Linked DNA regions of Homo sapiens: regions 1, 2 and 3 are each reported to be linked to region 4. Evidence: microRNA targets listed by miRTarBase, many of them from high-throughput screens and not tested one by one. Region 4 holds a microRNA gene; each other region holds the end of a gene's coding sequence. Distances are between the middles of the regions.

Region 1 (6,892 bases), not on the chromosome of region 4:
CTGCGCCCCCAGCGCCCCCCGCTCGCCCACCCCCCGGCCCGGGCCCATCCTCTGCGCCTGCCAAGGCCTCCCCGGAAGCGGAGGAGGCAGCGCGCTGCGTGCATTGCCGCGCGCTCTTCCGTCGCAGAGCAGACGGGCGTGGCGGCCGCTGCGCAGAGGCCCCGGACCCGGGTCGCCTCCTGGTGCGCCGTCTAAGCTGCCTGTGGTGCGCCGAGAGCTTGCTCTACCACTGCCTGTCGGACGCCGAGGGCGACTTCTCGGACCCGTGCGCCTGCGAGCCGGGCCACCCGCGCCCCGCCGCGCGCTGGGCCGCGCTGGCCGCGCTCTCCCTGGCAGTGCCCTGCCTCTGCTGCTACGCGCCCCTGCGCGCGTGCCACTGGGTCGCAGCGCGATGCGGCTGCGCCGGCTGCGGGGGTCGCCACGAGGAGGCTGCGCGGTGAGGACGGCCTGGTGGGTCCCCTAGCCGGCCCGAGGACCCAAAATTGAGGGTCCAGGACCCCGGACTCCGTTCGGACCTAAAACCCAAACCTAGGCACATCCGGAACTTGGAGCTTGAGTTTGGATTGAGAGATCTCAGACCTGGAACCTGGAACCCAAACCTAGGACTGAGAGACCCCAGCCCCAGCTTCATTGGGGTGTCTGTCTAAGAAGTCCCAGGCGTCCTGAGTTCTGGCGTTCCCCCACCCCCACACCCCACGAGGAGGCTCCAGGCGTCCCCATACTTTGCATCTCAGAAAGGCCAGGGAGCACATAGATCCCGAAAAGGGCAGGTCCCTGTTGAAATGAACAACCTAGAACCCGGTCACGCCTGGCACCATGTCCCTCAGATTACAGCCCCACAATTAGTCAGGACTTGCCCATAACTGGCTCTGCCTTTATTCAACTCCCAGATCAGATCTTGAGACCATAGGACCTGGAGTCACCCACAAACAGTTCCTGAATATTCACCTAAGACCTGGTGCCCCCACATCTGAGACATTCTCATAGTCCCAGGACCCCTGAGACAGCAGGACCCCTGAGAAAGTTTCAAACAGAGTTTGAAACTCTGTTATGCTCTGGAATCTCCAGATGCTGCCCCTCAAATCTACCCACGACTTAGTGCCCACAGACCTGGCCTCCAGTCCGGGAACACTGAAGTCTAAGATGTCCAGGGAACTCCCAGACACCCTGGGACCCCAGACTCTTAAGATGCACTGAGTGCTCGGATATACTGAAACACGAGCTGTTCTCTTACCAAAATGACTTGGGAGACCCATCCCAGAGCCCCCAAGATCCAGATATCAGACACCAAGATGCTCTGGAAGCCAGGGATCAAAGACCTCCATAGGTCCACCCACCCCCAAGCCAGGGTTCTCAGGAGCTTTGGATATCATTTATAGGACTCAGAGGTGCCTGGGGTCCTCAGATGTGCGACTGAAGGCCACCAACACCTCAGGACCCGAGATACTGGTCTCGAGTTCTCAAATAGCCCTCTCTTGCAGTCCCTCCTGGACCTGGATTTTGAGACCCCAAATGTCCTGGAATCTTCAGCTTCTTTCTACCCACAGATTCCCAACCCCTTAAGGGCTGGGAGTCCAGCTCCCAGAAGAGGGGATGCTCATGGTGACCCAGACCTCTGATGCCCTTGGCCCTCAGCCCTTGAGTGACCCTAAGGTACTTTAGGAGCACTGGATCCAATACCCCAAAGGTGCCACTGACCCCCAAATGCAAGGCTCAAGACCCTACAACATTGGGATTGTTCCTGATCCAAGACCTTCATCCCTCCATACCAGAGGCGTTCAGATTCGAGGTGCCCCAAGACCCCAGCACCCTCAGACCCCAGATTTCTTTGGATTCAAACCTCTCTAGTCTGATGAACCCCAAGTTGCCTCTACACCTGATTCCCCCATCCCCACTTGTCGGACCTCAGAGACCTGCTGCCCCTTGAATCCTGTCATCCATAGGCCCCTAAAACCCCAAGGTTCCAGCCTCTGGAATTCTGGTCCCAAGGATCCCAGCCCAAGCCCCCAGCAATCCTCAGAATTACCCCTTTATCTTAGGGTGGGATCCCTACCATTTGGAACTCATTGTAGGACCACCCAGGGTGGGGCACAGTGGCTCATGCCTTGTAATCCCAGCACTTTGGGAGGCCAAGGGAGGAGGATCGCTTAAGGCCAGGAGTTTGAGACCAGCCTGGGCAATGTAGTGAGACCGTCTCTAAAAAAAAAAAAAAAGGACCAAGTAGGAGCTCCCTCACTGTCACGTCTAGGACCCAGCATTGTCACAGATGATTATGCAGGGTCTTCATTAAGTGAAGGCACACAGCCCAGGGTTTCGAGGAGCTGGAAGTCACACCAGTCTGCTGGCCACACTGTGCCCTCAGAAGAAGTGTGTGCAATGGAAACTTTCAGGCTAGTTATGGCTCTGCTGTCCCACAGCCCCCAGTCTTGCAGACCTTCCTTCAAGCACAACCTTAATTCCTAGTCCAGGTTCAAGTCCCACCTTTTATGTTCTCCCCCTCCATTAACCCCTTCTCTTCCTATTTATTTATTTATTTATTTATTTATTTTGAGACAGAGTCTCGCTGTATCACCCAGGCTGGAGTGCAGTGGCACAATCTCGGCTCACCACAACCTCCCCCTCCCGGGTTCAAGCCATTCGTCTGCCTCAGCCTCCCGAGTAGCTGGGATAACAGGCATGTGCCACCACACCCAGCTAATTTTTTGTATTTTGAGTAGAGACAGGGTTTCACCATGTTGGCCAGGATGGTCTCAAACTCCTGACCTCATGATCCACCTGCCTCAGCCTCCCAAAGTGCTGGGATTACAGGCATGAGCCACTGCACCTGGCTCTCTTCCACTTTAGAGTGAGAAGTTGCTTCAGGAAGTTTGAAAGCCTGTTTCATGGCCCACTGAGTCTCTTCTGTGCAAAGGGGGGTGCCACAGGCTTTTTTCCCCCAAGTGAAATGGGGCTTCCAGTGGATCGAAGATCTGGTGTCCTGTATGGGGGCCTCAAGGTCTTGGAGCAAGACAGTCTCAATGTTGTATGGGCTTGGGACCTGCATCTGGCCCCAAGCATCTGGAACTGTGCACTTAACCTTTCTTCATTACCCAGACTTGGATGGCCTTGTTGGGGTTCAAGGGATAGGTCCTCTGTCTCTTCCTTTAAATTATTAACTATTTATTACATCCGGAACCTGTGAGATTCAGCACTCCCAACCAGACCCTGGGATGGGTGAGAGAAAAGCGGGGGTGTCTCTCCCCTCCCCACTCTGCCCAGCTCTCATCACTGTCAGACCCACCAGAGCTGAGGGCGGAGGGATTGGGGGCTGGGGCAGCCTGGGTCCCCATGCCCCTCTCTGTGCCTCGGTCTCCCCCCTTCCATGGTGGGCGGGGGGGAAGCTCCATTCTTAACCTACCTCGTTTTGGGGAGGGGTGGGACGGGGGACCAGAGTGCTGTACGGTGCTGTGGGATCTGCAGATGAAGCGGTGGGGGCTAAGGAAAGGTCCCCTGGCCGCCACTTCCCAGCAGCGCCTCTCCCAGGTCCCCCAGTCCTGCTCCCTGCTGAGACCCACCTCTGATCCATGATTCCCCTTCATTGCCCCCAAATCAGGGGTACATGGAGGGCCGCCCTGGGAGCCAGGCAGACCTCAGACCCTGGAGCCCCCAGGCCCAATTTCCCAGCCGCTTGCCCCTCAGATCGGATGCTTGGCCCCCAGATTTGGGGGAGGCACCCCAACATATATCTTCCTGATCTTGTTTCTAAGCCAGTCTGTGACCTCAATATTGTTAGTGTCAGTGCAGGCTGAAGTGGTGGGGGAGGATGGGGGCCAAAGACCCAGCCTTGTCATCGGGGGAGGGGGCACGAGATCTGCTCCAAGAAATGTCTGTGACAAAGTCTCAGCCTGTGTTATTTATTTGCCTCTGTGCACCCCACCCACTCACCTTCCTGAACTGCTAAACCAGTCTCCTACTTAAATTCTCCCTTCTCCCATCAGACCCTCAAGCTGAGTTTTATAAGACACTCAACAAATGCATTTATTGAGCACCTAATTATGTGCCAAGCCCTGTTGAAAGCACTGGAGATAAAGCAGTGGGCAGAACAGACAAAAGTCCCTCCTGCAAAGAGCTTATGAGCTTTATAGTAGGGGAGACAATAAGTAAATGACTTAATATGTTAGAAATGATAGAAAGCAGAAAGAAAAAAAAAAGTGGGAATGGGGGATACATGCCATTTTAGCTAGAGTGGCCAGGTTAGACCCTCCTCAGGAGTTGGCATTTGTTGTTTTGAGACAGAGTCTGACTCGGTCACCCAAGCTGGAGTGCAGTGGCATGATCTCTGCTCACTGCAGCCTCTGCCTCCTGGGTTCAAGTGATTCTCCTGCCTCAGGCTCCTGAGTAGCTGGGACTGCAGGTGGGTGCCACAACGCCCGGCTAATTTTTGTATTTTTAGTGGAGTCAGGGTTTCACCATTTTGGCCAGGCTGGTCTCGAATTCCTGACCTCAAGTGATCCACCTGCCTTGGTCTCCCAAGTGATTCCAGGTGGAAATCTCCCAAGTGATTACAGGTGTGAGCCACTGTGCCTAGCCAGGAGCTGGCATTTGAACAAAGCCCTGACGGAGGTGAGGGAGTTCTGGGGATGTCTGCAGGGAAGGGTATTTTAAGTAAAGGGAACAGCCAGTGCAAGGCCCTGAGACAGGAGTGTGTCCGGTAAGTCTGAGGAGCTTCAGGGAGCTAGAGTGTTGAGAGGGGAGGAAGCAGAGAAGAGAGCGCTAGGAGATGAGGGCAGAGAGGCGATGGGGCAGATCTGTCAGGCCTTGAAGGGCATTGAATGGACTTAGGTTTTTACCCTGAGTGAGACGGAGCCACAGGAAATTTCAAACATGGGAGGCATGTGACCTGACTCAGTTCACAGGCTCCTTCTGCTGCATGTGGTCAGCAGAGTAGGAGTGGGGTGGGGGACAGCTTCACAGAGAGGAGGCTGCTGTGATGGTTCAGGACAAGACAGCAGCGGACAGGCCCAGGGTGAGGGCCCTGAAGGGTGGAGAAGTGGGCAGGTGTTGGGCCTACTTTGTAAATAGAACCCACAGATTTATGTATGGGATTTGAGATAGAGGAGTCAAGATAGTAAGTCCAGGTTTTTGGCTGGAGCAATTTTTTTTTTTGTTTTAAATTGAGTTCATCACCCAGGCTGGAGTGCAGTGGCATGATCACTGCTCATTGCAGCCTCAAACTCATGAGCCCAAGTGATCCCCCCACCTCAGCATCCCGAGTAGCTGGGATTACAGGTGCACACCACCAAGCCTGGCTAATTTTAAAAATGTTTTTGTAGAGACATGTTCTCACTATGGTGCCTGGTCTGGTCTTAAACTCCTGGGCTCAAGCGATCCTCCCACCTCAGCCTCCTGAAAGGCGGGGATTACAGGTGTGAGCCACTGTGGCCCACCTCTGGGCAATTTTTAACATTTGATTTATGTCAAAAAATAGCCCCCCAAGTGTCCTGCCTTGGGGTAAACAGGGTTATGGGGTTACTCGTATCTGCCCTTAAGGAACAAGTTCTACCCCTGTTCTTCCCTCCAGGCTCCTGGTCCACCCCCAACTTCCAGCAGAATTGTCTAGGAACTACTGGATACCAGGATACAGTAAGGAAGAGATTAGATCTGACACAATGTTTACTTAGCAACAGCAACAAAACAACAGCAGTAGTAACAGTGGAAATAGGTTCCGTGGTTTAAGAGTATAGAGTCTGGAATTTCATCTTCAAGCCTTGGCATCACCATGAATTCACTCTGTGACTTATCTTCTCTCAACCTTAGTTTTCTCTTCTGTAAAAGAGATAAGATACTTCGCCCAATAGTACACATTAAATGCTGTATATATATTAGTTATTCCTTATTAAGTACTCCCTATATATCTGCTAAGCACTTTTTACATATGAAACTCTAATTAATCCTCAGCAACAACTCTAAGAGGTAGGTACTATTATCCCCATTATACAGATGGGAAGCAATTTGGCAGGAACATGGAGCTGGCGAGTAACAGAATCAAGCCCTAACCCTTTGCCTGATTCCTAGGGTGTAATCTCTTAACCACTATGGTGCATTGCACCTGCTCACTCCAAGGCCTAAGAGGGAGAGGAGTGAAGGCCTAACAGGCACATCGTGATCGATGAGGAGGGCCTGGTGTGTGAGGGGTGTGCTGGGATTCCTGGGTCCCTTATGTAATTCAAACCCTGAGGTGGAAAGGAGGGAGGAAGTTTTGGATTTTAGGCAGAGTTGGGTGAACACCACTCCGTCTGGGCTGCTTTAAGAGCAGAGGACAGGGCCAGGAACACTGGCTCAAGCCTGTAATCCCAAGCTTTGGAAGGCTGAGAGGGAAGGATTGCTTGAACACTGGAGTTAGAGGCAAACCTGGGCGACATAGCTAGACCCCTCTCTACAAAACTTTATTTCTTTTTTGACACGGAGTCTTGCTCTGTCCCCAGGCTGGAGTGCAGTGGCGCGATCTTGGCTCACTGCAGTCTGTGTCTCCCGGGCTCAAGCAATTCTCCTGCCTCAGCCTCCCAAATAGTGGTGACTACAGGCGTGTGCCACCACGCCCGGCTAATTTTTGTATTTTTATTAGAGATGAGGTTTCACCATGTGCCCAGGCTGGTCTCGAACTCCTGACCTCAAGTGATCCACCCACCTCAGCCTCCCAAAGTGCTGGGATTACATGCGTGAGCCACCGTGCCCGGCCTCTACAAAACTTTAAAAAAAAAAAAAAATTGGCCGGTTGCAGTGGCTCACGCCTGTAATTCCAGCACTTTGGGAGGCCGAGGCAGGCGGATCGCTTGAACCCAGCAGTTGGAAACCAGGCTGGGCAACATGAGGAAACCTTGTCTCTACAAAAAAATTAAAAACAAATCAGCCA
Region 2 (7,199 bases), not on the chromosome of region 4:
CAGGGGAAAAGATGTCAAGGATCAGGACCTGAACACCCTCCATCGGGGCACCCAGAGGTTAACATGCTACTGTGCTCCCTACAGAGAAAGCTGGCTCCCATATCAGGCCCTCTGGCTTCTGCCAAGGATCTGGGGGTAGGTGTTGGTGTCCCAGACACATCCATTCTGACACAGAGGGAGGTACAGTGCAGTCATGCTGTTGGCCCAGGTGCACAGCACATGGGCAGTAGCAGGGAGGGGCAGGCTCCAGTGCAGGCTTGCCACCTACCCCCACCCTGGTCCATTCATGAGGAATGACTTTCCTCTGGGGAGGGGCCCTGTGGGGGTGGCAGGCAGAGCAGGGCCCTCTCCTGAGGGCTCCCTCTGCCCCCAGGCTCAGAGCGGGACCACCCTAGGGAAATGTTCATCTCTCCTGCGGTCTTGTCGGAACCCCTTCAAGGTCATCGCTCCACAGCACTCCAAGTGCTTCCTCGTATCCAGCCTTAGTCAGTCCTCATGTTGCACTTGATTCATTTATCAGAGGACAAGTTGAGGGCCCCATTATCCTGCCACCCAGTGTGACATCACCGAGCTTCCCTCGGGCATGTTCCCTCCCTGGGACTGCCCAGCCGGCACAGGAAATGGCTGCTGGATGAATGTGCAAGTGAGTAAGTGTCTTGGATCCTCCTCCCATGGGAACACTAAGCGGCTAAGGAGTGGACCAGCTCCCCGGGGTCCAGGCTGAAACGGAGGCAGAAACAGGGACCAAGGAGGCAAACAGGCTCAAGAGAGCAACAGGACTGGGGACAGAGATAAAGCAGGTGCACCCCCAGAGAGCCAAGTGTCCAAGAGCTCAGGACGGCTGCGCTGAGGGCCTCAGCCACAGATGGCCTGAAGCAAGCAGGGCCCGCTGGGGAGAGCATGGCAGAAACGGGGTGGGATAGGAGGAGCTCAGGACACGGGGCCATGAGATGGGAGCCCAAAACCCAGGGGTGGGGGACCACAGTCCAGTAAGCGTGGCCCGGCCCAAGGTCACAGAGCAAGGACCCAGGGCCCCAGCCTCTCAGCCATGACCTGGCCCTCTGTCCCCCAGCAGGGAACCTTAGCCAGGCCCAGTGCTGAGGTAGGAATTTCTACAGGTAAGGAGGACACAGACGGTCAGAGAGACCACTGGCCCCAGAGTGCACAGGGGTAAGTGGCGGGGCTGGCCCTCTTCAGGCAGTCCCAGTCCTCCGTCTGAAGAGCCGGCTCAGGAGGCGGCTGCCACTCCCACCCCCACCCCGTCCTGTGCTTGGGCACGCTGGCACTGCCAGGCACTTACTCGGTTTGTCGAGGGCCCAGCCCCCAGCCCAGCACCCGCGGGCTTCCCCAGGCCTGGGCGAGGGCAGCAGGAGGGAACAAAGGCCCAGTCTCTGCCTGCTCAGGCCCCCACCCCCTTTGCCTGCCCCTGGCACAGAAGGAACAGGGCCCTGAGGGAGCCCAGGAGCAACAGCAGCACCGCCCCCTTGTCGAGGATGCAGCAAGAAGCCCCCTCCTACCCACAGAGGCCTGCCGGCTGAGCGGCAGGATTCTTCCACGCTCCACATGGGAGTGTTAGGGGGTAGAACTGAGGGACTGCAGTCACACAGCTGAGATTTGCACCCAGGCCCCACAGTGGGCAGAACCTGCCCTCTACCCCTCTCCACAGGCTGCGCATGATGGTTGTGACTGCGTTCTGGTGCAGACTAACTGAAGAGCAGAGATGAGGGAGAGAAGAGAAGGAGAGCCTTGGGCACCCCAACAGAGCAAGTCCCAGGCTGAGCCGCCCTCACCCTCTCGGCCCTACCTACCTACCTTCCACCTGGATCCAGCTCAGTGCTGATCACACAGTTTGCTGAAGGGATAGAGCTGGGGAATGTCAGAAATGGGGAAACTGAGTCAGCTTCCAGGCCTCTTAAGTCCTTGACTGGGGCTCACCTGATCCAGCCAGAGGCAAGGGAGACCTAAGCCACTCTGGAGCCTCCATTTCCTGATCTGTAACTCGGGGCTTGTTGTCCACTGGGGCCTCACTTCCCCAGACTGTGGCCCCCATCCTTCTCCAGACCTCCTCCCTGCTCTAGCCCAGGGCCTCGCTTAGACCCCCACCCCCAGGGGAGCCTTGACAGAGGCCCATGCCCACCCTTCCTTGTACACGCCTGAGCACGGCTGATTCCTCCCTGTGAGCCCAGGCCAATAATGTGCTCTTCATGCCACAAAGCTGAAAAGCACTCAGGAACCAGGTGCAATCGGCCTAAGGGACCTGTCCAAGGCCACCCAGCCCTTAAGAAGCAAAGAAGGGCTGACCTGTCACTACCCACTGATATCTCAGGACCTGCAGGGGCAGGGTTAAATGCACATTCCCCTCTCACCCACACGGCAGCAAGAGAAAGAGTTAGGGTCCTGGGGGCTGCAATCTGGGCAATGCCTAAGCAGACAGCCTCAGACAATGAAGGGCGAGTCAGGACTCAGTTGTGTCAACTTGGTATATACAACCTCTCCAAGCCTTGATTTCAGCAGAAGCCCACAGAGAAAGCCCTGATGCCTCTGCCTGCCAGTGCCTAAGGGCTGGGGAAATGCCACCTGCCCCAGCTTCATCCAGAAACTGTGGCTGCTCCCTCCCATCTGCGGGGCACCTTGATTAGTCTAAGTGGCCAGCAGACCCCAAGCAGAACCAGGCCAGTGCCTCACACAGAGCAGGCACTAGGATGCCTGTCGACAGCACTCCTTCCCCTCCTTCCCAGGCCCCAAGCCCTTATCGGACACGACTCATTTTAAAGAAAAAATAATATTTATTTGCAATATAAACAAAGTCCCGTTGTTGGTTCGGGATATATATATATATGTATGTGTGTGTATATATATACGTAGGGTCACAAATCTTCCTTCATAAGATCATAAAGCAAAACTGGCCACCTTCTGGCATACCCTCATTTACACAAATCTGGTACATCTTTCTGGGTTTTCTTTTTAAAAATAAAAGAGAGAAAAAGAGAACCATGTACAGCATGGAAGCTTGTTGTCAATTTCTCGACTGTGGCAAGATTTTAATCTGCTGCGCTAAAGAATCCCTGAAAGCCACCCCCGTGAGGTAAGAAGCAGTGGGGCAGAGTTTTTCTGTGGCCTCACTCACATGCTGAGTGCTGCTCCGTCAGGGACCCTGGCCTGACTCCTCTGCCTGCCCCAGGCCCCCATGCAGTCCTGACACCTGGTGGAACTGAGGCTGGAGAAGGAACAAAACTGGAGGAAGATAACGGAATCCGTGGCTTCGTTCTGTGGAGGCAGGGGGAAGTGAACAGAGCCTTACCCCCCTTCTGCTGGTCCATCCTTGCCCCACTTGCCCCCGCCCTAGGGTTGAAATGGGTGCAAGTCTCCTGGCAGTAGAAGGCATGGGCAAGATGAGGGCAGGGCAAGCTTCCAAGGGGACAAGGGGGCTGGGAGTGGCCAGACCAAAGCAACAGCTAGGGAGAAGGAAGAACCTGGAGGTCGGGCTGGGCCCCACCACCTAATGTCTCCCCAGCCACTGGGCCTCCACTCCCAGTTACAACAAGAGAGAGGAAAGGAAGAGAGAGGGAGGGGGGGAGAGAGAAAGAAAGAGAGAGAGAGGGAGAGAGAGAAAGAGAGAGAGGGAGAGGAAGAGAGAGAGACAGACAGACAGACAGAAGTAGTGGCTAAGTATATAAAAGGGCTCAGAGCCCAGGCCTTCTTAGGGGCTGACCCCAGAGGGCTAATGCTACTGCCTGGCAGCCCCCTGCGGCCCACCTCCTGGGGGACAGCGGCAGGGCCCCAGGGTCCCCACCTTCTGCCTCAGGGAGGTCTGCAGGGACCACCAGAGGGATGGATGAGACGGCAGAAAATGCAAAGACCACCATCCAGCCCACCAATCACAACTTGCAGCAGTCATCACAGGCGAATGCAGAGCTAAGTCAGACTGGGCCAAGGGTGGGAGGCGGCACGACTGGGGGTCCCAATACCTGAAGAGCAGTAAGCCACCCCTTCAAGAAGGGCCCGCTGAGGAAACAGAGGCTTCACACATGTGCAAAACGCATTTGGTCAAGGTCAACATGGCGTCTGTCTTTTCCATTAAAAAACAAAAACAAAAACAAACACGATACTTGCTTTTTGAAATTGAACGAAAAACAAAACTGAACATTTCTCTCTCTTGCAGGATCAGGAAAGGGATGAAATACTGGGTTATACAATCCACTGTTGCATGTAGCCTGAAAATAACACTTTTTGTTAAAAAAAAAAAAAAAAAAGAAAAATCAAGAAGAGCTCAAACACTCTTTGTGCTCCAGGGAGCTTGGATTTACCTGCCAAAAGTAAAAAGTAAACTCAGGTCCGTGGATGTGTCTTTAAAAAACAGCCAAACTGGCTGGGCTGTCAGCAGAAAGGAGCGTCCTGGACAGGATGAGGCCCTGGTGGACGCCCAAAGCCACGTGTCCAAGAGCCGAGGCCTCTCCAGCAAGCCCTGCAGTGGGAGACCTTGCCTGCGGGCCCTGCCCCCAAGGATGGTGAGGGGCGCTCCGACACCGATCAGCCTGGGCCTCTGGGCACAGGTGACATCTGGGGGTTCCTCAGGCCAGAGGTGGCGGGCTTGGGCTCTCCCACCTAGCCCTGTGGAGAGCCGAGCAGGGGCCTGGTGCCATGCCCCCCGTGCACCAGGCCTCACGTGGACTCCAGCGTATTGAGTGGGAACAGGTTGTGGTTGGTGGGCGTGGAAAAGTAGAGCTGCTCACTCGACGCGTGGTTGTCGCACGGGCTGCTTAGCCCCAGCGTCCGCTCAAAGTCCAGCAGCTGCCCCATGAAGTTGAAGTTGGGCGAGATGTTGGACTTTTTCCTCTTGACAAAGTCGTAGGCGTCGTTGAGTGACAGGTTCATCTTCTGCATCAGATAGGCCACAGTGACCGTCACTGAGCGGCTGATGCCTGCCAGGCAGTGCACCAGGACACCACACTTCTTGGAGCGGGCTTCGTCTGAAACACATTGGCATGGGTCAGGGAGGTGCCTCCTTCAAGGAGCCTTCCCACATGGGTGGGCAGGTGGGGCTGGGGCACAGAGGGCAGCATGGTGGCTGGCTGGTCTTGCCCGACCCCTGAGGGACCTGGCCAAGCCCAGTGTGGGTAGGGCAGCAACTTGGAATAGAGGTCAACAGCACTGCTGTGGAGAGGGCTCTGCACACTTTAGCCCCAAGGCACTGGACACCCGTGTCTGTTTCCTCATCTATAAAATGGGCCTATTTATGCACAGTGGTCTCATAAGGACCTGAGCCAAGTGAGGGGTCAACAAACATGAACTACTGTAATGCCTGTGATCATGGCTAGTCCTACCACTGCCATGTGCGTTAACGACTGCTGTCACGGGTGTCACCTGCATCCTCTTGGGTCATCTGCACCATGGCCAGTAAGCCCATTTTATCAACGAGGAAACAGACACAGAGACAAAGTGGCAAGCCCAAGGCCACACAGAAGCTCCTCCTAGCTCAGCGCCCGCTGCTGCCAGGCCATGACCTGGGACTGGGGGCTGGGCTGGTTCTCTTGGAGCCGCTCCCATGGGTTGTCCCTGAGAGTCTTCTAGGAAAGTGGCCTGAGGGAGGCTCCTCTGGAAGGAAGTAGGTGGCCTGGCCCTGCATTTCGCTCTGCCATCTGCCCAGCTAGTCCCCAAGGCCTTAACTCCAGCTCCTAAGACACATGGACTGGGATGATGGCCACACTATCACTTGTGATGGGGCTTCATAAGTGAGGTGTGCTTAAATGGGCCCCACCCCTGCCACTTGCTAGACCTTCCTCAGGAGGCCCATGTGTCAGTGATATCTCCTACCACAGCTGACTGGATGGGGCCAACCTTCCTGTCCCCTTTCCCCTCCAACCCTCCCAGCTTCCCCCAGTGCCACCCTCAGACTCCTCTGTCTGACACATAGAAGCTCAATAAATACTGGCCGAGCTACTGAACAACTCAGTCCTGTAATCTCTCCTGGACCCCGGGGCAGCTGCCTCTCTGTGTGCCACAGCTGTGCCAGGGACATAGATTCACAAGAGGCAGCCATGGGGTCCTTGATGTCCCCACCACCCTGACTCTGAACCCTCCAGGAGCCAGGCACACAGCTAGCACGCAATCAATGCCTTCCTACAAGATGACATACGGGTTCACCCACTGTTCTTCGTTGCCTTTGTCCTGACAGAGCTTCCTCTCCCATCCCCTCCCAACCAAGGAGTAAAGCATACAGTAGGTGCTTCCTCCAGACTCAGGGACTGACAGGGGGCCCCATGGCTAAGGCACTGGGGCAGGATCATCTGGCAAGGAGACAGACATTGCAGCTTCATGAGGAGCTGTGTGGTCAGACCTCGAGATTGGGGGTGGGAAAAGGGGGTGCTGGGACCAGCCTCCAGTGGTGACACCAGGATGTGAGGAACGCCTGGCCTCCAAACCCACCTCCAGGTGATCCAAAGACAGTCTGTTTCTGCTGGCTTTATTTTTGGCCTTTTCAGGGTGTAGCTGGTGACTGATCCTGTCCCACTGACTCCTAAGGGATGCCTGGGCCTCAATTCCTTCACTTGTCAAATGAGGAAAAAGGTCCCCCTACCCAGACGGGGAGGAGCTTTCAGGAAGGATAAAGGTACCCACTAGCCAGGCCCAGCCTGGCGAAGCCTGCTTCCCTCTCTCTATTCCCCTCCCTCGTTGGGGGAGTTCAAATGCTGAGGCAGCACCCCTAGCCCTCTTGACCCAGGGGGTGGTGGGCAGGGCTGAGAAGCTCCAGGCAGCCCCAGTTGCAGCCCCTCCCCCAGGCCTCAGCTTCCTTCCTTCCTCCCAGCCAGGCACCTACTTTTGGTTCCCAGTAAGCGGATGAGGCGGGGAAGCCTCCCACTTCCTGTTGTTAAAGCTAGCCCAGCCCAGCCGACACCAAAACGCCCTCCACTGGACACAGCCACCATCGGGAAAAGACAGCCCGGGCCACCCCCACACCTTGCCACTGGAGGCTGGGCAGAAACATTGGGTCACCAGGCTCAGAGATAGAGCGTTTACATTCATCCTGAGCCCTCGTGCCCCTTCCTTGCACCCTGGGCCAGGGGAGATGACCTGTGGTCTCAGCCTCCAGCTGGCCAAGGAGAAAGCAGTGGGGACCCGAGTCTGCTGAGGCTGGGGATACAGGGACTCGAAGGGCACTAAGCCAGACAGCAGGACACACTGCTCTGGGGAAGGCCTTT
Region 3 (7,199 bases), 130 Mb from region 4:
TCAGGCTTCTGTCTCTGGGTCTCAGCTGCCTGCTGTGTTCCCCACCACAGCCCCTCGCTTGCTGCTCCCCAGTGGGGGTCCTGTGTCAGGCGGTGCAGGTGGGGTGGGCGGTGGCCTCGCTGACTCTCATTAACAGGGCAGCTGACAAGGAGATGAGCAGATGTGATCTCAACTGGGAAGGGCCTGAGCGATGCTATCGGGGTGGGCCTGGCCCAAGTGCCCATTAACCTCTTGGGAAAGGATGTTGGGGTGTTGGCAGCTGGCAGGGATGGTCCCCCGGGATGGGGATAGACCCTCTTTCTTCAGACTGCGGTCTTTAGCTTGAATCCCTCTCTTGGGACAAGCCGAGGGTTGGAAGTGAATGTCGGAATCGGGATGGAATCAGGGTTGGAAGTGAAAGTCGGAATCGGGATGGAATCAGGGTTGGAAGTGAATGTCAGAATCGGGATGGAATCAGGGTTGGAAGTGAATGTCGGAATCGGGATGGAATCAGGGTTGGAAGTGAATGTCGGAATCGGGATGGAATCAGGGTTGGAAGTGAATGTCGGAATCGGGATGGAATCAGGGTTGGAAGTGAATGTCGGAATCGGGATGGAATCAGGGTTGGAAGTGAAAGTCGGAATCGGGATGGAATCAGGGTTGGAAGTGAATGTCGGAATCGGGATGGAATCAGGGTTGGAAGTGAATGTCGGAATCGGGATGGAATCAGGGTTGGAAGTGAATGTCGGAATCGGGATGGAATCAGGGTTGGAAGTGAATGTCGGAATCGGGATGGAATCAGGGTTGCAAGTGAATGTCGGAATCGGCATGGAATCAGGGTTGGAAGTGAATGTCGGAATCGGCATGGAATCAGGGTTGGAAGTGAATGTCGGAATCAGGATGCAGGTTGCAGGAGGTGGGGAGGGTCAGTGTGCTTTCCTGACTCCTCATGGGGAGATTCCAGCCTCTAGGTCCTGGCAGAGACCCCCAAGCAGGATTTCTCGACTCTGTAGCTCTACTTCTGTTTTAGGCTGGATAAGCCTTTGTTGTAGATGCTGTACAGTGCCTCGCAGGATGCTTAGCGGCCTCCCTGGTCTCTACCCACTAGATGCCAATAGCACTCTCCCAGATGTGACAACCAAAAATGCCCTAGTGGACAAAATGGACCCTGATTGAGAACCACGGCTTGAAGGCAGTGTTGTCTGTTAGAACATTCTGTGCTGATGAAAATGTTCCATATCGGTACAATACAGTCCAGTAGCCACTCAGCTACCACCTGAAATGTGGCTAGTGTCAATGAAGAACAGAAATTGTAACTTTATGTAAGTTTAATTTTAATTTAAACAACTGCATGTGGCCAGTGGCTACTGTGGTGGACAGCAAAGCTCTAAGGGACTGCTGAGCTCTGGTTCTGGCTGAAGGTGGCGGGGAGGGCCTAGGCTGGAGCGTGTGTGTCTGTGGTCTGGCCTCCATCTGCCGGAAGCCCCTGACTGTGGGTCATCCTGTGGGGATTCCCTAGCTTCGTTCCAGGCTCTGCTGAAGGATCCCAGCTTGTCTTCACTGGAGGGTCCCATAGGGAACACCCAGTTAACCCCTTGGTTTGTCATATGGGGAAACTGAGGCTTAGAAGGAGAGTGGGTCATGTGTCTGAGGTCACACAGTGAGCGAGTGGCGGAGTTGGGACCAGCCCCCAATCCCATGACTCCTCCTTTAGGAGGAAGCAGAGGCCTGGCTGGCTCTGGCCCTGGTCCTGGTCCTGGTCCTGGCTCTTTTCTCCTCTTTCTGCCCTTTGCCCCCTGCATGCCCCACCCCCACTCCCACCCCAGCATGTTCTGGCCCATTAGTGGGCAAAGAGGTAGTTCAGGGCCAAGGCCAGGGGACTGACCTCACGGGACCCTCCAGCTTTATGTTGGTCCCTGCCATGGATGAGGGTGGGGCAGACTTGAGGGTGGGGGGCAGAGCACGGAGAGTTTGAGGGCAGAGTCCAGGACAGGCTCACCTCAAACTCAAGACAGCCCAGAGCCGCCCTCTAGAGAGAAGGTCCGGAGTCCCCTTTGAACACCAAGGGTCACCCCTTATGACCTCTTGCCATCAACCTGGGCTGAGATTTCCTCTAAGAAACCCCCATAGCACAGCATGGGGGAGAATTCCCATCCCCAGATTAGGGCCCCAAGCCAGGTCCGCAACCAAGGGAAGGAGAGGTGCCCCCAGAGTTAAACTCAAGTGTCCCCAAAGGCTTTTTCAGCCCTTTCCCCCAACTCCTCAGTCCCACAGGTGGCCAGATAAAAAGCATGGATTTTGGCACCAGCCAGATCCAAGTCCAAATGTCAGTCTCATCATTCTCTGGCTGTATGATTATGTGACTTAACCTGTCTGAGCCACAGCTTCAGAGGGAGGCTGTGGCATTTAGTGATGATATATCTGGCACATAAAAGATGCTCAATAAATGCTAACAATGATCAGGGCTGCCAAAGACAGTTAAGCAAGCTGTGCACAGCAAAAGCACACCACACTTTGGAAGACATCCACACCACAGACCTTGTAGGTGTGTATATTTGTTGTACAAGTTTCTGGCAGATGACACGAAAATCTCTTGTTCTAACAAAGTTGCTATAATATGACAATTTTCTCATAGATGAAAGAAAGAGTGGGAGAAGTTTTTTTTTGTTTTTTGTTTTTGTTTTTTAATGTACAAAATTCCTGGTAGTCCTGGCTGTTATTCAACCTCATTTCCAACCCTGAATCTTTTTCTCCTCTGCTTTCATAGGCCCTAACTCTTGAGCAAACTCCAGTCCTAGAGCCCTTTCTAGGCTGTGGCTATGGCCAACCCATTCCCCAGGGCCTGTCTCATTCTGGCAAGGAAGGGGTGCCAGAAGCACAGCACTTATAGCCAGACAGCCTCCCTCTTGCCTTTTCTCTTTTGCAGGTTAACATGGTGGTCTTAGGCAAGTACCTGGGCATCCCCAAGCCCTACGGGCCCATCATCAATGGCCGCTGCTGCCTGGAGGAGAAGGTGCAGTCCCTGCTGGAGCCTCTGGGCCTGCACTGCATCTTCATTGATGACTACTTGTCCTACCACGAGCTGCAGGGGGAGATCCACTGTGGCACCAACGTGCGCAGGAAGCCCTTTCCCTTCAAATGGTGGAACATGGTGCCCTGAGCCTGCCCCCACCCGCCATCCTCTCTGCCCTCTTGCTAGGGAACCCTGCCAGGGTGAAGGCAAGGAACAACCACCTGGCCTCCATTCTCTTGGGGGAGTCTTGGCACTTTGCAAACATCCTGGCCACCATGGGCACCAGGACACAGGGATGGATACCACCTACCCTCGCCTCTGGAATGGCCTACCCAACCCGAGAAGAATGCACCTCATTCTTCCCTGGCCTCTTTCCCACCCACAGCCCCCAGAGGCTCTAGATCAACAATGTTAGCATGTTCCAGAATGGCTGTGGGAGGCCTAGGGAGATGGGCCCCACTTAGAATTGCTCCCCCTTCATTCTGATGCCTCCCTGGGGAACAAGGATAATGACTTTGCATCTGCACCTGGAACGGGGCCTGGGGGACCTGGGGTCTGGTGTGCCAGGCACCAGGCTGCCTCTGCTCTTGGAAAACTAGGAAAGGGGATCAGAAACATCCTCTCCCCGCTCTAGGTTTCTTCTCCCAAAGGGGACCCAAGGCTGTGACACTTACCTCCACCCCCATCCAGCACCCTTCAGCTGTGTGTGGACAAACAAGGACAGAAAAACCCAGTGTCCAAGGGCCAATTTAAATAGAAAAAAAGACAACAAAATTTTAATAGCTGACTCCGACCTCAGAAGAGTGATTGCTACCTTTCTGGAAAGACTTTAATTACCAGAGCTGGCTTCTCCCAGCTCAGAAATGCTGAGAAGCCAACGTGAGGCCTGAGGACACACAAAGGATGACGGGGCAGGAGGGGATGAGGTCAGGGTAGCAGAGTGTGTGACGACGGATTTGGGGGCCTAGAGGTGTCCGTGGTTCCTGGGCTGGGATTTTGGACTCTGGATTTGAAGGGAGCTGGAGCTTCCAGATGTAGCAGGGGTAGGGGGCCAGATGTTAGAAGAGGGTGTGTGTGTTGGGAGGAAATTAGGTTATCTCTGAAGGTGGAGTTTAATTTCCTTTAATAGTCTTTAATTATTCCCCTTCATTCTGCAGGCAGTGGGAGGGGAAGGCTTGCCCGGTCTCTCTCAGCAACCCAGGGACCCTGCACATAGCTTAGGTTTCATCCCTGAATAAACCGCTGTGCAGGCCCATGTCCCCTCCCACAGTAGGGAAGACAGCTGCCACGGGAGGTTAATAGCCCGGAGTGAGGTCACTGAGACATGCACAGGCAGGCTGGTTCAGCTGGGCTGCAGGGCACGGGCAGGAGGAAGCCAGCCTACCCTCTTCCCCCACTGCCAGTGAGGCCATTGTAGGGCAGTTGGCCCTAGGGCTTCGGTCCATCTAGGTTTTCAGTGGCCCCTGCTGAGACCTCACACTGAGCCAACTACTGTCACTGTTTTAACCAACAAAAGCTAGCCTGGAACTGCTATGGTTAAAGTGGGTGAGCGGGAACCTGAAAATCCCCTTCTGGAAGGTTCTACAGAACTCTATTTGCAAGCTCCTGCTTTAACCTGAGCGTCCTCTGCTCAGGATCATACCCCAGCCTGCACTGAGTCAAGAAGGAGAAGGAGGCTCTGAAGGGGCCGGGGGTGTGAGCTGGGGTTGGGACTCCCCTGAGAAAGAGCTGTGGGTAGGAAGGGAGTGAGCATTGCAGAGATAGGGCTGGGGGTCGGGGCCACACTGAGTGTGGGAAGCTCTGGAGTTGCTGCTGGGCCATCGAGGGGCCCTGGTGTTGGCTCTGAGAATGTTCTGGGTGACCAGTCACCTACTTTCTGATCAATAAAAATGTCGACATGCATTTCTTACAGGGCTGTCTACCCAGCCTGTTTGTTGGGTTGGGGAGGAGGGGAGGAAAGCGGAGAAGACTGCTTCCAGTTCCATCCACTATGAAGCTGCTTGGCTCAATTTCTGCTGCCACAGGCGGCCCCTGCTCAGCTAGGAGAGCCTCACAGTGCCACGGCCAGTGCCACGGCCAGTGCCAGGCAGGCTGATTCAGCAGGATGGCTGGCACATTGCCTCTTGCTCTGGGGCTGATGGCCCTGCTAAGATGGAGATCAGATCAGGGGAGGGATGGGTCCTGCCTCTTCATCTCTTCTCTCTTCCTTCAGCATCCCCTCCATCTCTCAGGGACAACAGGTCGGGGAGGCAGCCCGGGCCCTATTAACAGAGGTGAGAGTTCCCCAGCAGGGCTGGTTCCCAGGGCCACAGGCCACTACAGTTCCCTTTCTGGTTTTCGTTTTGTTTTGTTTTCTTTTCTTTTGTTTGAGACCGAGTCTTGCTCTGTCACCCAAGCTGGAGTGCAGTGGTGCTATCACAGCTCATTATAGCCTTGAATTCTTGTGCTCAAGCGATCCTCCCACCTCAGCCTCCTGAGTAGCTAGGAATACAGGCACAGGCCACCATGCCCAGCTAATTGCTAATTTATTTTTTACGGAGCTGGGGTTTTGCTATGTTACCCAGGCTGGTCTCAAACTCCTGGGCTCAAGCGATCCTCCCATCTTGGCCTCCCAAAGTGCTGGGATTACAGGTGTGAGCTACTGTGCCTGGCCCAATTCCCTTCCATTTTTGTGTCTGAAGCTTCTAAGTTACCTGGCTTCAGTGGTCTGATTTTGGATGCCTGAAATCATCACCCTCTCATCCTACACATTTGCTGCTGCCTCAAATTACACCGTTTGATACTCACTCACTTTATTTTAGCTTTTGTTGTGGAGTAAGAGGGCAAAAAGTTGCTGCCTATTAGTCATTGACACTTTAGTCTGAATTAACCACAAACCTGTTTCTAAAAGTTGGTATTAACAGAGGAGAAGTGAAGGCATGAGTCTCCTTCCAAAGACATATACAGTTCTCCGAGAAAGAGGCAGGTAGTGGGCCAGCACCCCAGGGAAAGCCCCTACTTTCTGCATCTATTCCCCATCTGTGCTCACAAGAAGGCTAGGGAGACTAAGGCTTCCTCCTGAGCTCGAACTCTTACCCAGGGCTCCCAAGGCTGACTCAGCCATCAAGCCATTCCACAGCTGAAAAAAGTGAAGCTGTCCCTTGACCCAGAAGCCCAGCAGTTCTCCTTGAAAAGAACATCTTTCCCAAAAACTGAGACATGGGAATGACAATCTCAGGGTCCTGTTGAGGCCCTTGAACTGGTGCAGATGTCCCAGCTGGAGATGCTGGGGAGCGGGTCCTGGTCCCCATCCTGTCTCAGGCTGTCAGCACTGCCAGGGAGAAGGGAGGAAACCTCTATTCAGCACCTCCTGAGCCTCCGCCAGGCAGGGTGCGTCTTCACTATTATCTCCGCCAGGGCCAGTGATTAGCTGCATTTTCTACAGATGAGGAAACCGAGTCTCCAAGAGGGGGGACACTGACACCCAAGGCCCTATAGTGGGTGCACGGTGGAGCCTGCCTCTGAACCCAAGACTTCTCTCCCCAGAGCCCTTGCTCCTGCTCTTCCAGGAGCCTGAATGCCCCTCTGACTTCGGTTTCCCACCTGACGACTGAGCTTTCCTACTCTGACATGCCAAGCTCCCCCTGGCTGGAGAGAGTTCTCACCCTCATCATTTACCGCTTTCAGAGGTTTTTGGGACCTAATAACAGCAACAATAGTAATACAATAACGCCAAGCTCCATACCAGAGCTCTACCAACGCTGGCCCCTGAGGCCTCACAGCAACCATTTTTCAGACGAGAAAAGTGAGGCACGAACAATTAAGAAAGTTGCCCGGCCGGGCATGGTGGCTCACGCCTGTAATCCCAGTACTTTGGGAGGCCAAGTCGGGTGGATCAAGAGGTCAGGAGATCGAGACCATCCTGACTAACACGGTGAAACCCCGCCTCTATTAAAAATACAAAAAATTAGCCGGGAGCCGTGGCAGGCGCCTGTAGTCCCAGCTACTCGGGAGGCTGAGGCAGGAGAATGGCGTGAACCCGGGAAGTGGAGCTTGCAGTGAGCCGAGATCACGCCACTGCACTCTAGCCTGGGTGACAGAGCGAAACTCTGTCTCAAAAAAAAAAAAAAAAAGAAACTTGCCCAAGGTCGCCCATCCAGGAAGCAGCTGAGGCAGGGCTGAAACCCAGGTCTGGCTCTAAAATCCATTAAAAAAAAAAAGTTGGTGT
Region 4 (7,199 bases):
GATGTATGCCTCATTAAATAATCACCAGCCATTATTCCAGAGGTCACAAGATTTGCAGCTTCCCCAGTTACTGCTGTGAAGAACATCACTATTGTAGAACCTAAGATTGGCCTCTTGAGATGTCTTTTCAGGCTTTTGCATTTCTGACTACTGGATGGCACCATTTGGCCCGAAAATCAATCAGTCCCTTAGCTCCCACCCAGAAGCTGACTCAATGCAGGAGGGCCATTTTCCACACCCCTGTGATTTCATCCCCAACAATCAGCACCGCCCAAGCCCTAGCCCCCTCCCCACCAAACTGTCTTTGAAAAAACCCTTACCTCCAAGCCTTCAGTGAGATTGATTTGAGTAATAACTCTGTCCCCTACATGTCATGGCTAGCCTGTGTCAGTTAAACTCTTTACTGCAATGCCATGGTCTCCGTGAATTGATTTTGTGTGTACAGTGGGCAGGAAGAACCCATCAGGTGGTTACATCTGCAGGATGGTGCCAGTTCTTTCCACAAAGGCTGGTCAGATACCCAGAAAGTATTTCTCCACTACTACCTGGACAATGTGTCTCCCAGTCAGTCTACAGGGAATGGGGTCTGGATCAAGTATTTCACATTCAGCAGTTACTACGCTGTCACCTAATCCCTCATTTTCAATATTTTGCCATGTCTTCCAGTGGCCTAACTGGCCACCATGCCACAGAATCTTTACTTTGTGGTCTCCAAAGAAGAATTCTCCATTTGATGTTTTGTGATTTGAGCAATGGAATAGAATCTGATACTGGTGGGCTGGGGGAGGTCCCCGGACACTGGTAGGATCTCGACCCCAGCTGTGGTGTCCAGGCTCTTGACACCATCTCAAGAATGAGGTCAAGGATGAGTTAGCAAATAGTGAAAGAAGAGATTTATTGCAAAGCAGAAAGTACACACTCAAGAAAGGGGAGTTTGGGCATACCTGAGAGAGAACAATGGGTTCTGGGGTTTCATCTCAATGGGTTTCTTTAACCAAGGAGTGGAATATTGATGAAAATTCCTGGGTAAAGGTGGAGATTTCTCAGAACTGTGGTGCCATCCATTTTTACATCAAATATTGGTCTCAGAACTGTCATGGCACTGGTGGGTGTGTGATTTAGTATGTTAATAAGCGTATAATGAGGGCCTAGGTAAAACCTACGTCAAATCCAGCACCACATTGGGTCCAGTCAGTCTTAGCCAGCTTGGTCCACACCCTGGTTTTTCAGCATCTTATCAGCCCATAGCCTCAAGTCATGTAAATCTGCTGCCTAGAATTTGTTATCCTGTGACCACCCTGTATTATTCCTGTCTCAAATCTACTTGTAAATATTCAAATGGTCTTTGACTTGGGAATTCCAACTTTGCTTACTTCACAGTGTTTCCTGCATTATAATCCCATATAAGAAAAGATGATCCAGACATTTGTTAAGCATCACAAATAAGATGTATCCCAGGTATTTTTGTCAAATTTGGATTATTTTGGTTTTGTCTTTGCAGAATATAAAAAACTAACACGAGGTAAGCAATAAGGTCTGGAGATGGCTGTGCAAAAGATGACAAAGTGCAACACCACATTTGAGAGTGTCCAATCATTTCTTCTGTGGCAGCATATTTTTCCACAATACTGAATTTGGAAAAAAATAAAAATAAAAATAAAAAAAACTACAAGATTCATTAAACTTGACAACTGTTTTTATAACATTACCAGTGATAAAATCAGTAAGGAAGGCTGGTTTGCAGTCATCTGAGAAGCCTCTTTACTTTCATAAATATGGTTTCTCTGTGACATTGAACGGCTTCCAATTTCAAGCGGAATGCTACATTACAAGGATAAGTATGTGAAGAAAACCGGTTTCTTTTGTAGTCCTAAACGTTCTAGTCTGCGAAATAAAAGTCATTATGTGAAGAAGAGTACCCAGGCTCCATCTGGCCACCGAAAGTTTGCTTCACAAGATAGGCTAAGGACCAGCTTCTTTGGGCGAAAACAGATGCCGGGGCGGGAGGGAAAAAGGGAGAGGCAGACGTCACTTCCTCTTGCTGGTTCAGGCAGCGGGTTGGTCGGCTGACTGGCAGAAAGGCAGATGGGGCCTGGGAAAGGCACTGTCGGTGACATCACGGATAGGGCGACTTCTATGTAGATGAGGCAGCGCAGGAGCTGCTGCTTCCCCACCTGCTGCTTCGCCTCGAAGGAGTTCCCGAGCCTTGGGAGCGGGCTCAGGACCGCTGGTCCGGCCGGAGAGTCCCAGCTGTGTGTCAGGGCTAGGAGGGCTGGGGGGTGCGCGGGGCAAGCGACCGTGCGTGTAAAGGGTGAGGCGTACGGGGCGGAGGTGCAGGAGCTCATATTTACTTGGCAGGGGAGATAACATGATCACGAAGGTGGTTTTCCCAGGGCGAGGCTTATCCATTGCACTCCAGATGTGTTGACCCCTGCGATTTCCCCAAATGTGGGAAACTCGATTGCATAATTTGTGGTAGTGGTACTGCGTTCGCGCTTTCCCCTGATTTTTTGTAGTTTCAAGAATACGCTGTACTCTAAGGGCTACTTTTTTCTTTCATTGATTTGTGTCTTGGACGTGTTATTCTTACAGTGGAAGGCTGGGAAATAGGAATTAAGATGTCGCTTCTCCCACTGAGGAGAAATAGGGAGCGTCAGCCTTAACACAAACAAACTAGCGCGAAGGCCGTACAGCTCTTCCCTTTCTACGCAGGGCTGCTTTTTGCAGAGATTGGTCCATGGTCTCCAGTGTCTTGGGTTCTCACGCTCTGTGAAAATCTTCGTGGTTTTCTCTAGCCCCCAGAGTCACCTTTTACACAGCCCCTGCTTCTAACCGCAGCCCCCTCAGGAGTTTGTAGGATTTCTGTGCTAGCGGGGAATGTGTTCTCACCTCATAGAGCCAGGTACAAACTACGCAGACAGGCGCTGTTCTTTGGGATGAAAGCAGGGCCTTTGGGGCTCTTAGTGTCCCCGTTCATTTGCAGACATAACACGCTTACTTTGTGTAGGGGAATGGCTTTCCCGGAGCCCAGGTGCCCTAATGCAATTCGTGGAGGCCCGCAGGTCAGAACCGCAGTCTTACTTGTCTTGGCTGAAATGCGCTGCGATCCTCCCTGAAATATAAGGCAGGAAGTTTTATGAGCAGCGGGGTCCAGTTTCCCTATTATCTCCTGCTGTTTACATATCTAGTCTTTCTTCAGACTTTATTTAAATGACAACTTCTTGTTTGATGTCTCGCTTCCATATCCTACATCCATTGCCAGGCAACTTTTTAGATAGCACCCCGACCCATCCTTCCCACCCCCAAGCAGCCCTTTCCTACTTCTGGCGCCAGTGTCCTTCCCGGTCCGTCTTTCTTCAGGCCCTCCCTTATCACCTTCATGGACAGAAAATACTTAGCTCTCTTTCAACCTGCAGTTTGCACCTGACACGCGTCAGTACCCTGGCAAATTCCTTAATACCCCTTCTCAAATGGCACTGTAAATTCATCTCTTTTTAACTCCCAGAAGTATCTAATTGGTCTTGTCCCTGCATTGCATGAATACTAGTATTCCACTACAAAAGAAAACCCCAGGCCTAGAGATGGCGGTTCTGGGCATTGTGCCAGCATTTCCCAGGGTATGTTTTCTGACCTCACCTACTTCTGATCAACTGAGGTCAGGAGTTCGAGACCAGCCTGACCAACATGACGAAACTCCGTCTCTACTAAAAATACAAAAAAAAAAAAAAAAAAAAAAAAAGCAAAAAAAGCAAAAAAAGCTGGATGTGGTGGTGTGTGTCTGTAATCCTAACTACTGGGGAGGCTGAGGCAGGAAAATCGCTTGAACCCAGGAGGCAGAGGTTGCAGTGAGCTGAGATCATGCCATTGCACCTCAGCCTGAGCGACAGAGCGAGACTCTGTCTCAAAACAAAACAAAACAAAACAACAAAAAAAAACTAGGCCATCTGAGACATATTATTGGAGACAGTAGAATCCTGCATCCAACAGGCACTTGGTGCAGATCTGAACCCACTGAATTATTGGCTCATGTTCCGTCTGTTTTATTAAGTATCATGAGCAGAAATTGAGCTCTTTGGCTTTTACACACTAAGTATGGCTATAGGACAGGTCTCTCTCTCTCTCTCTCTCTCATTATTGTGTCATTATTTTTTGCCATCAGTGTGGGCTTTTGGTTTTGATGTTATGAAGTGAATTTGTATGGACAATTTCTGTTGGGTGGTGTTGACAAGGATCCAATCCCTGTTTGGTAATACATGACAGCTAATCTGCTCTGTGAGACTTTTTTTATTGTCTATTTATTGTCCTGAGAATAATGGTATTTCCTGATATTTGAGACTGCAGCAATGATAAGTTGTTCATATCTTGTCTTTCCAATGTTTGGTAAAAATTTTATGGGCCCAATAGTTGTCAATATCTGCAAGAGTGGCATCCCTGTTACAAGAGTGATCTTACTACTCAATGTCCCCCCTCCCATCAAACTTCGTTCCATAGGAAGTCTTGGCTTTAACAAATTTACTATATCTAAAAGACATCTTAGTACAGGAAGAAAACCAAATCTGTAGCATGTAAGGAGCAGTTTTCTTTGATTGGTATATTCAGGTTTCTAACCAGCTGAAAAATTCAAATACATGTCCTTTAAGGATTAAGTTTAAACCACACTACAGAAAGGAGAGAAAAGATTTATATGATCACATATAAGCAATGGAATCAGCAATATGAGCACTTTTCACAACTATACAAATCTAATTTAATAATCTCCAGAACATTAAGAAAGGTATTGTCGGTGACATCATCGATAGGGCATTTCTATGTAGATGAGGTAGCACAGGGCTGCTTCTTCACCATGGAGGATTTCCCGTGCTGTAGGAGCAAGTCCAGGACTGCTGGGTGGACGTGAGAGTCCCAGCTGTGTGTTAGGGCTAGGAGGGCTCAGGGTGGTTGGGGATTGGTGGGGGTGGTTCTCAGAGCAAGTGACCATGCGTGTAAAGGTGAGGCGTATGGAGCTGTGGTGGGGCAGAGGTATGTGGACTGCCACTTACCTGGTAGGGGAAATCCTATGGTCACCAATAGTGGTTCATCCTAAGGTTGAGGCTCATCCATTGCACTCCAGATGTGCTGTTCTCTGTTATCTCCCCTAATGTGTGAAGCTCAGCTGCATAACTGAGCTTCACAGTACTTGACTGACTCCAAGGCCAGCAATAGATAGAGCCCTAGCAGATCCTTGATAACACTGTCTGAAAAGCCAGAGCCCTGAGGAATTAGTTCCAGAGACTCTCTCAACACAGTCTGCCCCTAGCAAGGATAAGAGGAAAAAACAACAAATCCCTTTACTACCTTCTCTTTTCCCCTTACCATTTCTTATTATTCAAGTTTTAAGTTCCTGATTTCCTGTCAGTGCAGCTGCAAGGTCACCAGCTATGCTTGCATTGCAAGACCGGTCACAGTTTGATTAGCTGCCTTTGTTCTGCTTCTGTAAGCCCTCTTGCCTGCACCGTGAGTTTTGCACCTTCAAATTCCCACTGCACCATTCAAACTAGCCAACCCCCTTTCAGAAGTGTGTGTAAAAGCCAAGCCTTGTCTTTGTTCAGGGCTCAGCCTTTGGATTTTAATATGCTGGGCCTGAGTACACTCAATAAAGTCCTCCTGTTCCACCCATTGGTCTCTCTGTTCTCCTGATTCCCACAACAGTAGTAGGGGACTGTGTTCGCACTTTCCCCTGGTCCTTCATGGTATGAATAATAGACAGCCTTTTTTTCTTCACCTATAGTCACAGGCTCAGTCTCAGTGATTGTATGGTGTGGTCAGCTGTTTTTGTTTTTGTGAGACCTTGTTTTCTTTTTTATTATCCTGGGACAGATGTCTGTAGTCACTTGTTTCCTCGGGAGGCAAATTTCAGTCTCTGTGGGGGAGGTCTCTCACATTAGCTGTGGTGGTACTTGGCAGGTGGAGCTCAGGGATCTAGGCTTCCCTGCTTTGTAGATTGCTCAATGGTCCCCAAGGCCCACTGGCTTTTAACACCACTTGAAAACCTTAGTATTTTTCTGTTGACCTCTTACACAGCCTCTTTTTGTTTGTTTGTTTGTTTTTTTCCCTGAGACAGGGTCTCACTGTATCTGGTGGCATTTTGACTCAAGCAATCCTCCCACCTCAGCCCTTGGAGTAGCACAGGCACAAGCCACCACAGCCGGCTAATTTCTGTGCTTGTTTTGTTGTTTTTTTGTGTTGTTTTTTTAAGAGTTGAAGTTTTGCCATGTTGCCCAGGTTGGTCTCCAACTCCTAGACTCAAGTTTAGAAACTGCTAGGATTACAGGTGTGATCCATCACACCTAGCCAGCCCCTGCTTTTCACTATAGCATTCATGGGAGTTTGTAGGATTTCTGTGCTGGGGGGAATGTGTACTCAGTCCATAGAGTCGAGCAGAAATTGTACTTGGAACTGGTGCCGATGGGTTGTAGACATAACATCCTTGCTCTTTGTATGGGAAAGGCTTTGCCGGTACCCTGGTGCCCCTGCGCCAGGGCATCAAGTCCTGCAGGTCAGAACAGCAGTCTCACCTATGTGTTCATGTAATACGCAGCAATTCTCCCTGGAATATAAGATGGGAGGTCTTGTAAGGTTCTTACAAGTAAGACGACTAATTTCCCTGAAGCTTGTTTTGACAAAATTCAAAATTAATAATAACAGCCCAACCTCTTGGATGACAAATGTCCTTTACATTTACAGACTGGAACTGCCCTGCTTGCCTCAGCTCCTCCATGCAGGTGTAGCCCTCGATTCCCTCCACACAGGTCATTTCCTCCCTGCTTTCTCCAAAAGAGGGAGACAGTGGTTCTGCAGGACCGCAGTGCTCAAGGCCTTCCAGGGCAAAACATGTCAGAACGAGTTGCCCTGTCCTGCCTGTGCCTCACCACTGACCTAGAAATAGCCTTTGCTAGGAGCAAAGTAGGGGGAAATGGTCGCTGGAGCTGGGGCCTGGGTACTTGGCCAGGTTGCCCTGCAGGAGGGGAAGTACTCAGGGTTAGAGGGGGCCAAGCACCAAGACCTCAGCATCCTCAACCTCCAAAAGGACTCAGAGAGATGCAGAAACCAAGACAGGGTTCCTCTTTCAAGGAAGGAGACTTTTGAGGAAGACCCCAGGGCTCTGAACCAAAATTCAGATTTTTGCCCATCTGCAGCTTAATTCCACCTTATCTGGTGCA

The links. Region 4 holds the annotated microRNA hsa-miR-6077 (GGGAAGAGCUGUACGGCCUUC, at 2,681-2,701, opposite strand). A microRNA usually pairs through its seed, bases 2 to 8, with sites in the 3' UTR of a target mRNA and lowers its output. Matches are read on the target gene's strand: a 7mer-m8 pairs with bases 2 to 8, a 7mer-A1 pairs with bases 2 to 7 and ends in A, and an 8mer does both.
Region 1: miRTarBase lists SPRED3 as a target of hsa-miR-6077. Seed matches in the 3' UTR shown: 7mer-m8 at 2,513-2,519, 8mer at 2,831-2,838 and 7mer-m8 at 3,136-3,142.
Region 2: miRTarBase lists DUSP7 as a target of hsa-miR-6077. Seed matches in the 3' UTR shown: 7mer-m8 at 3,628-3,634 and 7mer-m8 at 3,556-3,562.
Region 3: miRTarBase lists PADI1 as a target of hsa-miR-6077. Seed matches in the 3' UTR shown: 7mer-m8 at 4,378-4,384.

The regions. Positions count from the first base shown.
Region 1 is chr19:38,395,706-38,402,597 of GRCh38, forward strand. SPRED3 (sprouty related EVH1 domain containing 3) reads left to right here. Exons shown (of 6, transcript NM_001394336.1): 6 at 1-3,882. The coding sequence ends at 440. Among named protein-coding and RNA genes, the nearest start is that of FAM98C, 3.9 kb to the right of the region's middle. RefSeq lists a silencer at 4,454-4,612.
Region 2 is chr3:52,046,153-52,053,351 of GRCh38, forward strand. DUSP7 (dual specificity phosphatase 7) reads right to left here. Exons shown (of 3, transcript NM_001947.4): 3 at 2,767-4,970. The coding sequence ends at 4,663. It overlaps LOC124906238 (a long non-coding RNA gene), which reads left to right and starts at 77. Exons shown (of 2, transcript XR_007095908.1): 1 at 77-1,170; 2 at 1,667-2,806. RefSeq lists an enhancer at 168-1,367.
Region 3 is chr1:17,241,105-17,248,303 of GRCh38, forward strand. PADI1 (peptidyl arginine deiminase 1) reads left to right here. Exons shown (of 16, transcript NM_013358.3): 16 at 2,906-4,903. The coding sequence ends at 3,139. Among named protein-coding and RNA genes, the nearest start is that of PADI3, 4.4 kb to the right of the region's middle.
Region 4 is chr1:148,383,796-148,390,994 of GRCh38, reverse strand. MIR6077 (microRNA 6077) reads right to left here and starts at 2,713; the gene lies at 2,632-2,713. It also overlaps the pseudogene RNU1-155P and the pseudogene RNVU1-2. RefSeq lists an enhancer at 2,571-3,410.